Linked DNA regions of Homo sapiens: region 2 is linked to region 1. A link means that fine-mapping ties the variant in region 1 to the expression of a gene that starts in the linked region. Tissue or cell type: prostate. Region 1 holds a variant in brackets; the other region holds the start of a gene. All regions are shown on one strand. Distances are between the middles of the regions.

Region 1 (7,511 bases):
TTTTTTGAGATGGAGTCTCACTCTGTCTCCCAGGCTGGAGTGCAGTGGCACGATCTTGGCTTGCTGCAACCTCCACCTCCCGGGTTCAAGCGATTCTCCTGCCTCAGCCTCCTGAGTAGCTGGGATTACAGGCAAGAGCCACCATGCCCGGCTATTTTTTTTTATTTTTGTATGTTTAGTAGAGATGGTGTTTCACCATGTTGGCCAGGCTGGTCTCGAACTCCTGGCCTCAAGTGATCTGCCTGTCTCGGCCTCCCAAAGTGCTGGAATTACAGCCATGAGCCACTGCACCCGTCCCCCCTTTTTTTAATTTAAAAATTTTTAGGCCGGGTGCGGTGGCTCAAGCCTATAATCCCAGCACTTTGGGAGGCCAAGGCGGGTGGATCACAAGGTCAGGAGATCGAGACCATCCTGGCTAACACAGTGAAACCCTGTCTCTACTAAAAATACAAAAAATTAGCTGGGCGTGGTGGCGGGTGCCTGTAGTCCCAGCTACTCCAGAGGCTGAGGCAGGAGAATGGCGTGAACCCGGGAGGCAGAGCTGGCAGTGAGCCATGATCGCGCCACTGCACTTTAGCCTGGGTGACGGAGCAAGACTCTGTCTCAAAAAAAAAATTTTTTTTTAATTGTTTTTTATTTTTATAGAGACAAGGTCTCATTATGTTTCCCAGGCTGGTCTGGTCTCGAACTCCTGGGCTCAAGCGATCCTCCTGCCTTGGCCTCCCACAGTGCTAGGATCAGAGGCATGAGCTGCTGCGCCCGACATTCTGTATTCTTTCAATTCAAACATTCTTTTCTTTCAATCCAAACACTTTCCCACCCACACACACATCCTAGGTTCCAACCTACTCATGTCCTCACATACCCCTTCAGCGAGTCCTACATCCCCTTTTCACAAGCACCCTGTTCCGTCCCAACAGTGTTTCCTGGCATCCTCTTCAACAATGCTCACCCCACTCTCATGCATTCATCCAATGCCTACCAGTAGTTTTATGCCCCTTTCAATTCTTAGTTCAATTTCAATTCTTAGTCTCATCTATGCCCTGCAAAGCAACTGCCTCCTTGCATTCCTTTAGTCTTATTTTGTTCTTGTACCCCTTTAAATCAGAACCCTCTCTTGCACCCCCAATAATTACCTTATTCTCATGGATTCCCTGCTCCACTTTCTTTTTTTTTTTATTGACAGGGTCTCGCTCTGTTGCCCAGGCTGGAGCGCAGTGGCGTGATCATGGCTCACTGCAGCCTCCACCTCCTGAGCTCAAGCAATCCTCCTGCCGCAGCCTCCCCAGTAGCTGGGACTACAGGCTGGAGCCACTATGCTTGGCTCCCCTGTCCCACTTTCTTTCTTTCTTTTTTTTTGTTTTGAGATGGAGTCTCACTCTGTAGCCCAGGCTGTAGTGCAGTAGTGCAATCCCGGCTCACTGCAACCTCCGCCTCCTGGGTTCAAGCAATTCTCCTGCCTCAGCCTCCCGAGTACCTGGGATTACAGGCCTGTGCCACCACGCCCGTCTAATTTTTGTATTTTTAGTAGAGATGGGGTTTCACCATGTTGGCCAGGCTGGTCTTGAACTCCTGACCTGCCTCAAGCGACCTGCCTGCTTCGGCCTCCCAAAGTGTTGGGATTACAGGCATGAGCCACCGCACCCGCCACCTGCCCCACTTTCAAGTTATTTTCCTTCACTCCTTCATTCATTCCACAAATGGTTACTGAGCCCCTGTCATGTGCTAGGCCCTGATCTGGGCCAAAAACCTTCTCCTTGGGGCACTAATGTCTCTCTTGCGCTCACACCTTATTCAGGTTTTTGTGTAAACATGTGAAGTCACTGTGTCCAGCGCTTCCTGCTCCTGTGGCCACTACCAACAATTAATTTCATGCATGTCCCCCTCCCCCCTTCCCGTGCCCCAGGGAGCGAGTGGGGAACCGGGAACGCGCCAAGGGGCCCGCGAGGCAGGGAAGGGGAGAGGGGGCGCGAGGGCGGGAGGGGCGCGAGGGGGAGGAGAGGGGATGCCTGGGTTAGGGAGTCCGGCTAAGAGGGAGGAGGACGGAAAGGCAGGAGGGACCGTGTTCGTGCAGCTAGTTCACGGTTACCACAGCCTCCAATGGAGTCAGATTCAGTCAAGAAGACGCCCAAAGACACTGTGAGAAAGTGGCCAGAGGAACCGCCAAGCTCGCGCTGCTTTTCTTACCCTGTCTCACAAAGACCAATGAACTTCAAGCATCGCCTCTCTCAGCCGAGGCAGACGACCAATGCGGTTTGAGATCCTGAACTGATGTCCCGCCCCTTCCCTTCTGCCAGCTTCTTGGCGCACAAGACTATCAGTCCCACCAATAGCGCTTCGAGTTGAGCCTCGCGCCACCGCTGCCTCTCCCTCCGCACGTCCTGCCCGCCCAGACTGTCTTCCCCCTTTCGAGGCAGGTGGCCAATGGGGCGTCGAGTACCCCTTATTGGACCGAGGCTGGCCCCGCCCCCCAGGAACGGCCCGCCTGGCCCCGCCCCTGGGGCGTTGACCAAGCCCGGTCTGTGCACGGGTTGCCTCGTTTCTGGCCTTCCCTTGCCTTGTACCTCGACTTCGCGCGTGGCTTGTTTTTGCTGAGTGGAGGCCTGCGTTTTCTGTTATGTCTCTTCCGGTGCCCCACAACTCCTGAGCTACCCTTCTTTTATGCGTTCTCTCCCAGCGCTGTGATTACCGGGTTGCTTACCGGGCCCTCCTTCCTCAGATTGCACCCCTTTCCTTGTGTCTCTTCTTGTCTTTGTGTCGGTTGTGATTTTCCTAATCTCTGATTTTCCTTTTCTCTCGGACGCTCTCCCTCTTCGGACCCATTTTCTCCCGTGCTTCATGCCCTGATAGCCTGGCCCCTTCCCGGCTTCCTTCGCTACCGGGGACGCCTCTAGTTTTTCTGAATTTCTGGCTGGCTCCACCCTCCGCGTTCATCTTCCTCAAGAGTTCGCCCCTCTGGGGGCTCCTCTGTGTAATCGTCGCCTTCTCTGGGTATTTCTGTGAACTCCGTCTCACACCATCCCGCCATCTTCTCTGCCTTGGCCCCTTTTCTCTGTACAGCCAGCTCTGTGTCCTTTTCTTCTCCCCCTCTAAAATCGACTCCTCTTCTCCCTGAGAGCCCCACCTTTGTGCCCCACTCCTCATTTTCCTACGCCTCCCTCTCTCTGCTGGTCCTCTCTCTCCCTGCAAGGTTCCATTCCATCAATTTGTTTGTCTTTTGTAGGGGTGGCATCCCCTCTGACTACTGCTCCATCCTTTTTTTTTTTTTTTTTTTTTTTTTTTTTGCTTGAGGATTTCACTTCAATCTTTTCTGGTTGCGTCTCCACTTGTACTCAGCTTGTTAGGTCCAGGTCCAGTTGTTCTGCATCTGAGGCTGGCGTGTGCTGTCTTCTCTGATTGGCCTAATCTCCCTCACCCCCGTGAGATCTGTTGTCAGCCTTCGTTTCTCTTTCCTGTGTCCCAGCTTTTCTGCGGGTCTTGGCACCTTTCTTGGCCACAGATTTCTGGGTTACAGAGCATGTGTGTCTGAGGCATTGCAGGCAGAAAAGGGTGGCCGACGTGACCTCTAGCTGGACTGCTGGGCAGGGGAGCTGTCCTA[G/C]ATAAAATTGGAAAGGTTGGGTGGCGCTTATCTGGGGTGGGGTGGGGTGTGGTCGGGGGAGGCTTAAAGGCCAGCTAAAGAGGTTGAACTTGATCCTTTAGGTAGTGGAGAGAGAGTGAGAGGAAGTGTGTGTGGGAGGGAGGGATAGTGGTAGAGGAACAGGGTAACCAACGATTATAAAGAGCTTAGCATTTGCCTAATACTTATGGTAATAATTTTATTGATCTTCACAATGACCCTATGAGATGTATTATACTTCATTTTATAAAGAAGGTAGTAGGCTCTGAGTTCAACAAATTGGACAGCTAGTAAATGAAGGGGTAAAGATTCCAACCTGGGTCTCTGAGGCCAAGGTCAGTGATCTTTGTACCCCCTCCTACACTGTTATTTTCCACCAATTCCCCACTTTCATTCCCTAACCTTCTTATAGGCAATTCTCATTCTAAGGTGGTTAATATGTATCTTTTGGTTTGTGTGTGTGTTCTCCCAGGATGTGTGTAGTGTTGTTGTTGGGGTTTTTTTTTTTTTTTTTTTTTTTTTTTTTTTTTTTTTTTTTTTTTAGCGATGGGGTTTTGCCATATTAACCAGGCTGGTCCAGAACTCCTGGCCTGAAGTGATCTGTCTGCCTTGGCCTCCCAAAGTGCTGGGATCACAGGCATGAACGACCACACCCGACCTCTGTTTGAGTTTTTAATTTATGCAAGTGATATTATGTTATATACTATTTGTAATAATCAGCACTGTGATTTTACAATCTATCCATGTACACATTCTGTCATTCTGTCATGATGTGTACTTTTTTTTTTTTTTTTTTTTTTTTTTTTTTTTGTTTAGACGGAGTTTCACTCTTATTGCCCAGGCTGGAGTGCAATGGTGTGATCTTGGCTTACTGCACCCTCCACCTCCTGGGTTCAAGCAATTCTTCTGCTGCCACAGCCTCTTGAGTAGCTGGGATTACAGGCTCCCACCACCACACTCGACTAATTTTTGTATTTTTAGTAGAGTCAGGATTTTGCCATGTTGACCAGCTTGGTCTTGAACTCCTGACCTCAGGTGATCCGCCCACCTCAGCCTCCCGAAGTGCTGGGATTACAGGCGTGAGCCACTGTACCCTGCCTCACATCCTGTGTACATCTAATCAACTTCTTCCAACTCCTGCGTGATATTCCATAGCGTACATCCCCAGCATGTTTTGCATTCACTTGGTCTCAGAGAGGGAAGCTCCCATTGTCTCAACCTACCATCACCACAATAATGCTGCATTCTCTGGGCATGGGAGCTCATGCCTGTAATCCCAGCACTTTGGGAGGCCGAGGTGGGTGGATTGCTTGAGCCCAGGAGTTTGATAACAGCTGGGGCAACATGGAAAAACTCCATCTCTACAAAGCTGGGTGTGTTGGCGCACACCTGTAGTCCCAGCTATTTGGGTGGCCGAGGTGAGAGGATTGCATGAGCCTGGCAGGTGGGGGCTGCAGTGAGCACAGCTGTCCTCCAGCCTGGGCAACAGAGCGAGACCCAGTCTCAGAAAAAAAAAATGCTGCATTATTGTGCATGTTCCTTTGTAGATGAAGGTGGACATTTTTGTAATACCTATGTAGGGTATACTGGAAATGGGTATTTATAAACCCAATTTGACCATGTAGTGTCAGACCCCTGCAATGCTGCTTTGGGCCTGAGATCCTGGTCAGAACTCTCAACTCCTTTGTTTCTCAGAGTCCAGAAATAGTGTTTTATTCCCCAGCCCTCCAAATAATGCCATGAGCATCAGGGGCCAAGGGTTCCTTTATCCCCACATACCTGCCAACACTTGTCTTTTCCCAGCTTTCTGATCCTTACCAGTCTGATAGATGTACAATTTGACAGATTGCATTTCCTTGGTTATTGCTGGGTTTGTGCATTTCTTCACTTTTTTTTTTTTTTTTTTTTTGAGACAGGGTCTTGTTCTATTGCCCAGGCTGGAGTGCAGTGGCATGATCTCGGCTCACTGCAACCTCTGGCTTCCGGGTTCAAGTGATCCTCCCTCCTCAGCCTCCCTAGTAGCTGGGACTGCAGGCACGTACCACCACACCGGGCTAATTTTTGTATTTGTAGTAGAGACAGTGTTTCACCTTGTTGGCCAGGCTGGTCGCGAACTCCTGACCTTGTGATTTGAGGCTAAAGCAATCCTTCAACATTAGCCTCCTGAGTAGCTGGGACTACAGGCACTCCCATGCTTGGCTAATTTTTAAACTTTTTTTTTTTTTTGGTATAGACAAGGTGTTGCCCAGGCTGGTCTCAAATTGCTGACCTCGAGCAGTCCTGGCTCAGCCTCCCAAAGCACTGGAATTACCGGCATAAGCCACTGTGTTGCCCAGGCTGGTCTTGAACTCCTGACCTCAAGGGATCCTCCTGGCTCAGCCTCCCAAAGCACTGGGATTAGAGGCATGAGCCACTGTGCCGGCCTGCATCTTCTCCCTTGATCAGATTTGCCAGCGAACTAACTAAATCTTTTCATAGAATGGATCTTTTTTGTAATAATGTTTGTTGTTGTTTACTATTTCATTGATTTCTGCTATCATCCTTATTTCCATTCTTTTTTGGGTAGGAGAGAATTGCTTTGTTGCTCCTTATACAATTTCTTGAACTAGTTCATGAATATATTTATTTTTTAATGCTTCACATTTCCTGATACATGTATTTAAAAGTATAAATTTACTTCTAAATACTGCTTTAGCTGTGTCTCAAATTTTGATGTATATATTTTATTTTATTTTTTTTTTTTTTGAGACGGAGTTTCGCTCTGTCGTCCAGGCTGGAGTGCAGCGTCGCAATCTTGGCTCACTGCAAGCTCCGCCTCCCGGGTTCACACCATTCTCCTGCCTCAGCCTCCCAAGTAGTTGGGACTACAGGCGTCCACGACCATGCCTGGCTAATTTTTTTGTGTTTTTAGAGATGGGGTTTCACCGTGTTAGCCAGGATGGTCTTGATCTCCTGACCTCGTGATCTGCCTGCCTCGGCCTCCCAAAGTGCTGGGATTACAGGCGGGAGATACTGTGCCCGGCTGTATATATTTTAAAAACCCTTTAATTTTGAAATGATTGTTGGCTCACAGGAAGTTGCAAAAGTGGTACATAGAGTCCCTTGGATCCTTCCTCCAGTTTCCCTGTAGGGGCATCTTATATAACCATAGTATATGAGCAGGAAATTGACATTTGTACAATACTGTTTGTACAGTCATAGCTCACTGCAACCTCCATCCCCGGGGCTCAAGTGGTCCTCCCACCTCAGCCTCCCAAGTAGCTGGGACCACAGGTGCATGCCACCATGCCTGGCCAATTTTTGTATTTTTTGTAGAGATGGCATTTTGTCGTGATGCCTGGGCTGGTGTACAGTACTCTTACCTAGACTTCAGACCTTATTCAGTTTACAGCAGATTTTACATGCACTTATGTGTGTGTGTGTGTGTGTATGTGTGTGTCTGTCTGTGTCTATGTCTGTGTGTGAATGTGTGTGTTATGTAATATGTTTATTATTATTCAGTTCTAAATACTTTTTTTTTTTTTGAAATGGAGTCTCTGTCTCTGTTGCCCAGCCTGGAGTGCAGTGGCGCGATCTCGGTTCACTGCAACCTCCGCCTCCTGGGTTCAAGCGATTCTCATGCTTCAGCCTCCTGAGTAGCTGGGACTATAGGCTCGTGCCACCACCCCTGGCTAATTTATATTTTTTAGTAGAGATGGGGTTTTACCATTTTGGCAGGCTGGTCTTGGACTCCTGACCTCTGGTGATCCACCTGCCTTAGCCTCCCAAAGTGATGGGATTACAGGCGTGAGCCACTGCTCCTGACCTCAGTTCTAAATACTTTTAAATTTCCATGTTGAACCAAGGGTTATTTAGTGATATGTTAACTTACACACACACACACACACACACACAA
Region 2 (6,444 bases), 400 kb after region 1:
CCCAAGGTGCATATATATACATATATATAATGGTAGATCACGAGGTCAGGAGATCAAGACCATCCTGGCCACATGGTGAAACCCCGTCTCTAGTAAAACACAAAAAATTAGCCGGGCATGCTGCCGCGTGCCTGTAGTCCCAGCTACTCGGGAGGCTGAGGCAGGAGAATGGTGTGAACCCAGGAGGTGGAGGTTGCAGTAAGCCAAGATCACGCCACTGCATTCCAGCCTGGCGACAGAGCAAGACTCCATCTTAAAATAAACAAATGAACAATATATATATATATGTATTTTGTTTTTTGAGACAGAGTCTCGCTCTGTCATCCAGGCTGGACTGCAGTGGTGCAATCTTGGCTCACTGCAACCTCCGCCTCCCGGGTTCAAGCGATTCCCCTGCCTCAGCCTCCTGAACAGCTGGGGTTACAGGTGCACGCCACCACACCTGGCGAATTTTTGTATGTTTAGTGGAGACGGGGTTTCACCATGTTAGCCAGGCTGGTCTCAAACCCCTGACCTCAGGTGATCTGCCCACCTCGGCCTCCCAAAGTGCTGGGATTACAGGCGTGAGCCAACGCGCCCAGCCCCAAGTCCCTTTTACCATAGAAAGTAACATAGTCACAGTGCCCAGGGATTCACAGGTATGGGGAGAGGGTTCGTTATTCAGCTGCCACACCCACCTTCCTAAACCTGCTGCCCTTCCAGTTTCCTCACGTGCACAGCCACGCCCGTCTGCTTTTAGTTTCTCAATCTGTTGGCTTAACCTTCAAAACAGGCCCAGGATTTGAGCACTTCTCACCATTCCCTCTGCCCCATCCCCATTCATCTCTTGCCTAGACTGCTACAGCAGCCTCTTTTACTGGTCCCCTGCATCCACCCTTGCCCTCTAAGGCAAGGGTCCCCAGTCCCTGGGCCAAGGACCAGTACCAGCCCCTCGCCTGCTAGGAACTGGGCCGCACAGCAAGAGATGAGCAGCGGGTAAGTGAGCATTACCGCCTGAGCTCCGCCTCCTGTCACATCAGCAGTGGCATTAGATTCTCATAGGAGGCAAACCCTATTGTGAACTGTGCGTGCGGGGGATCTAGGTTGCCTGCTCCTTATGAGAATCTAATGCCTGATGATCTCAGGTGGAACAGTTTCATCCCAAAACCATCCCCACCCCACCCCCGACCCCCAGTCTATGGAAAAATTGTCCTCCACGAAACCAGTCCCTGGTAACAAAACGGTTAGGGACCGCTGCTCTAAGGTACATTCTCCACCTGGCAGAAATAATCTTTACAAAATGTAAATCCGATTTTGACACTCCCTTCTTCCCACTGTGAATAGAATAAAACCCTACCAGGCCTGCACCGTCAGCCCCTGCCCACCTCTCAACCCAGTCTCCTATCTCTGTCTGCAAGCTGGTTCCCACCTCAAGGCCTCTCTGCTCTAGAGGCTACCTCTCCCTGCAGCGCTTTTCCCCTAGATCTTTGAATGGCTCTTTCCTTATCATTCACTTCTACTTCAATGTCACCTCTTCAGAGAGGCCTTTGCTGATGGCCCTACACCCAGTCACTTTTTTTTATCTGCTTCTCATCAAAATTGCCTTGCTGATTCCTTTGTTTCTTATTCATCCTCTCCCACATCCATCCTCTCCCAGCCCAGAATGTTGACTTCCTGAGAGAGGGACTGGGTCTGTCCTGCTCACCATGGTAACCTCGGCATCTAGAACAGTGCCTGCCATCACGTGGTAGGTGCTCAGTAAATATTCTTGGAACTAATGAATGAATAATTCTATCCACAAGACTTCACAATGGCTCTTCATGCTGCGATCTAGCTTTCAACTCCAAACTGGTCTTGAGATCTCACCTCAGTCTCTAACCTTGACATCTAACCTCTTCACCCACTCTCTTACCTGACCCTAATTTTTAAAAATGACGTGGTCAGCTTTTCAGCCCCCTCATTCCCTGTTTTTAGGAGGTAGTGAGTGGAAGCTGGAAGAATAAGAAAGCTTGGGGAGACTGCAATTGCAGTCAGGAAAGAAAGGTACTCTGCCGGGAAGAACACCCCATCTTCTCCTAGGGAAAGATTGTGGAGTCCTGGGGTTTGTTTTGTTTTTCAATTTTTTGTTTTAAGAGACAGCGTCTCGCTCTGTCACCCAGGCTGGAGTGCAGTGGCGCAATCACAGCTCACTGCAACTTCGACCTCCCCGGCTCAAGTGATCCCCCCGCCTCAGCCTCGTGAGTAGCTGGGACCACAGGCGTGCACCACCACGCCCGGCTAACATTTTATTTTTTGTGGATATAAGGTTGCCCTATTTCTTTGTGGAGATAAAGGCTCCCCTATGTTGCCCAGGCTGGTCTCGAACTCCTGGCTTCAAGCGATGCTTTCGCCTCGGCCTCCACAAAGTGCTGGGTTCACAGGTGCGTGAGCCCGACCTGTGTCTCGTTTTGAAGCTCAGGGAGAGGGCGCTGTGAGCAATCCCTAAACCCTTTAAGAGTAAAAAGTGCGTGCACCTTTAAGAGGACGGTTAGAAAACGCGGGGCGTGGCCACAGGAGAATAAGTTCGCGCTGAACCAGGAGCGTGGGATAAGACCGGCCCCTTCCGGTTACGAAACCTTAGCAAGATGGCGGCTCCCTGGGCGGTAAGTGACCGGAGTTCCTAGAGCCCCAAATTTGAAGTCCGCTCTACAGCCTCCGCATTCAGGGCCTCTGTTGGCGGCCACGAGAGCAGAAAGCCGTGAGGCAGCAGGCTAAGCCTGGCAAGCCCCGTACTGGGAGTGCAAACCTGTGGCTAGTGGGGGCCAGGAAGGATCTGTGAGGGTCGCAGGCGGAGGAGACGCTTTAGCGAGCGAGAGGAGGCAGGGACTTGGCTGAGAGTATCCAATGGGGATGAGGGAGTGGCTGCCGAAGAGCGACGCGACTAACCAATCAGAGGGAGGGATGACACAAGGAGCTAATGGACAGGCAAGGGTGGGGCCTGTAGGATAAGAGAGCTTGGAAGGGATTGTTCGAGGATGTGGGATTTGGTCTTAGAAGACCGAAGGATGAATGTAAGGAAAGTTAGTGGGAGATTGACGAATTTTTACAGAAAACTCAAAAGCATGATGGGTGGGGGAACCAAGAGGTCAATTTGGAGGTTCTAAGGGCATGATCTGGGTGAAATTAAGAGGAGAATTTGAGATATTCTTTCAGAGGATTTAAAATCAAGGAATGAATTTAGGGAAAATTAAAGAGGTTGGCAGCTTTAAACTTTTGAGGAAAATAAGGGTTTGGGTAAAATTATCGAGATAATTTGAAAAAAAAAAAGAATTTGGTTAAAGCAAAGAGAAATTGGGGTAGATTAAGAGGAGACCTTGAAAGCAAAATTGAAGAGTTTGGGGGCTTCTTCCCATTGGCCACACCCCTCGACTTTCTTACTCTCCTCTTCAAAGCTCATGCTTTTTATACCCTTCTCGGTTCAGGGGTGTCCAATCTTTTGGCTTCCCTGGGCCACGCTGTTCGAAGAAGAAGAATTGTCTTGGGCCACACATAAAATACACTAACCATAACTGATGAGCCAAAAAAAAAAAAAAAAAAATCACAAAAATATCCTCCTAATGTTTTAAGAAAGTTTGCATGTTTGTGTTGGGCTGCATGCAGGCGGCGGGTTGGACAAGCTTGGTTGGTTTTAGGGATTGCTCAGAGCACCCTCTCCTTGAGGTTTGGAGATAAGTTTTTAAGATTATATTCTGGGGAAAGAAAGAAGTCATTTGGGAAGACCCCAGCAGAAGAATTGGGTAATTAAGGGGCAAATCTGTGGAAAATTAAGAGGTCAAATAATGCAGGTTTTGAGTGATAAGGGTTTGGGGGAAAGTTAGAGGAAGAATTTAGGAAAATCAACAATATATGGCTAGTCGAGAAAATTTAGGGTTCACTAAGGGGAGGAGGAACTTGGAAAAAACATGGGGAAATTTTTGGAATCTCAAAGACAGTTTTGAAGTTTTGAAGGAAGAACTTAGGGTGAGTTGGGAAGCAGAGGGATTGAGGTTCATGGAGCAAGAACTGGGGGATCCAGCTCTGTGTCTCCCAGGAGGCTCCAGGCTCAGCTCCTTTCCTCTCCCCCTCCCCAGTCCCTGCGCCTGGTCGCCCCCATGTGGAATGGGCGTATCAGGGGCATCCATCGCCTGGGTGCGGCAGTGGCCCCAGAGGGCAATCAGAAGAAGAAAAGGACAATACTCCAGTTCCTGACCAACTATTTCTACGATGTGGAGGCTCTGAGGGATTACTTGCTCCAAAGGGAGATGTACAAGGTGCATGAGAAAAATCGGTGAGAATCCCTGGTCTGCAAGACCCTGTGGAGACCCTGGCCCACCAGAGCCCAGGTCCTGTCCTTGCCATTCCCAGGCAGCACTGTGGCTTCCAGTGCCAGCCTTGATGTCTCTTGCAGCTCCATCTCCAGGCTGTACCCTTCTCAAGGACTCCAGCTCACATAGGCAGTTTGCCACCCACCAGCTCCACTCAGAGTCTAACTGGCATCTCAAACCTAACATGGCTAAAGCCAAACCCTGATTTCTCCCCTAAAAACATCTGCTCACTCCCAAGCCTTCCCATCCCAGTAAACACTGGTGCTGCCCACCCAGTTGTTCAGGCCAAATTCTAAGGAGTCATCCCTAATTCCTCTCTTTGCTTCCCTGCCCTCCACATCCAGACCATCAATAAAATACTAGAATATCTCAGATTTGACCAGTTCTCACTGCCTTCACCATTCGTAGCCTGATCCCTTATAGTTGAATCACTCAATAAGCTAACTGGGTTTTTGTTCCCATACTCTTTTTTTTTTTTTTCTGAGATGGAGTCTTGCTCTGTCTCCCAGCCTGGAGTGTAGTGGCGCAATCTAAGCTCACTGCAACCTCCACCTCCCAGGTTCAAGCAATTCTCCTGCCTCCGCCTCCCAAGTAGCTGGGATTACAGGCGCCCGCCACCAGGCCCAGCTAATTTTTGTATTTTTAGTAGAGATGGGTTTTCACCATGTTAGCGAGGCTGCTCTCGAACTCCTGACCTCAGGTGATCCGCCTGCCTCGGTCTCCCAGAGTGCTGGGATTACAGGCATGAGCCACCACACCCCGCCAAAATTTGTTTTGTTTTGTTTGAGACAGAGTCTCACTCTGTCGCACATGCTGGAGTACAGTGGTGTGATCATGGCTCATTGCAATCTCCACCTCCTGGGTTCAAGCGATTCTCCCGCCTCAGCCTCCCAAGTAGGTGAGATTACAGGCAGGCGCCACCACACCTAATTTTTCTATTTTTAGTAGAGATGGGGTTTCACCATGTTGGCCAGGCTGGTCTCGAAATCCTGACCTCAGATGATCCACCTGCCTCGGCCTTCCAAAGTGCTGGGATTACAGGCGTGAGCCACCACACCTGGCCTGTCCCATAGTTTTTTATAATCTACAAAGCAGCTGAAGGAATCTTATCATCACCAGCTCAAAACCTTCAAATAAGAGCCAATCTCCAAGGCCTAAAACATAGCTCCTACTGAGCTTTGAGACCCCCTATCAGGACTCCACTGGCCCCTTCAGCATGACATCCCTATTTCTTATTTATTCAACCATCCTAATTCAAGTCTCTGAGCCTTTATACTCTGTTCCTTCTCACCACTCAAATCCCTGCTCAAATGTCACCTCCTCCAATTAACACCCAAACTCAGTTAGCCTCCACCATCCCCACTCCTCTGCTCCCTAGCCCTCACAGTCAGCCTCTCTGCTTTGTTTGGTCATGGAATTGACATTCTCTGCAGTTTGCTGTTATTTCCTGGGTTGTTATCTGTTTCTCCCTGTATAATAGCTTGGATTACTGCAGTAATCTCCAGACTGGGCAGGGATGTTATCTGCCTTGGTCACCACTTTGCCCCCAGTGCCCAGCACTTAGGAGGTGGGCAATAAATATTTTCAGCCTGACTGAATCTGTCTGTGTGCCTGGTTCTCTGGACTCTGCCCCTCTTAACAGCACTGGGGCATCGTGAGGGCTGTGGTGCTCCCCAGGCCTCACCCTTAGCTACCATTTTCTCTGCAGATCTTACACCTGGCTGGAGAAGCAACATGGTCCATACGGCGCAGGTGCCTTTTTCATCCTGAAGCAGGGAGGCGCAGTCAAGTATGACCGCTAAGGTGTTAGAACGGGCTGGGGCAGGTGGTGGGGTATCTCTCTAACATCCAGGTTCTGCAGTCACACAGGCTTCAGAGTCCCCTGGTCTCTGCCGCCTCCTGGCTGTGTGGCTTGGGACTTGTTCCTGAGCTTCAGTTTTGTCACGTGTAAAATGGGATGGTGGTCATTTCTAACCCACAAGGTTTGCTATAAAGAGTGAACAGGGGCCGGGCACGGTGGCTCACGCCTGTAATCCCAATGCTTTGGGAGGCCAAGGCGGGCGGATCACCTGAGGTCAGGAGTTCGAGAGCAGCTTGGCCAAAATGGCGAAACCCTGTCTCT

What was found. PIP is the estimated chance that this variant, and not a neighbour inherited with it, causes the effect.
Region 2: it holds the start of DMAC2, and the variant in region 1 is fine-mapped to the expression of DMAC2 in prostate (GTEx, PIP above 0.99).

What each region holds. Positions count from the first base shown.
Region 1 is chr19:41,839,680-41,847,190 of GRCh38, reverse strand. LYPD4 (LY6/PLAUR domain containing 4) reads left to right here and starts at 2,508. Exons shown (of 5, transcript NM_173506.7): 1 at 2,508-3,613. It overlaps DMRTC2 (DMRT like family C2), which reads right to left and starts at 2,149. Exons shown (of 9, transcript NM_001040283.3): 1 at 2,090-2,149. The variant G/C (reference allele first, on the strand shown) is at 3,599.
Region 2 is chr19:41,436,059-41,442,502 of GRCh38, reverse strand. It overlaps DMAC2 (distal membrane arm assembly component 2), which reads left to right and starts at 2,591. Exons shown (of 6, transcript NM_018035.3): 1 at 2,591-2,621; 2 at 4,089-4,285; 3 at 6,031-6,111. The coding sequence starts at 2,604. RefSeq lists an enhancer at 2,687-2,856.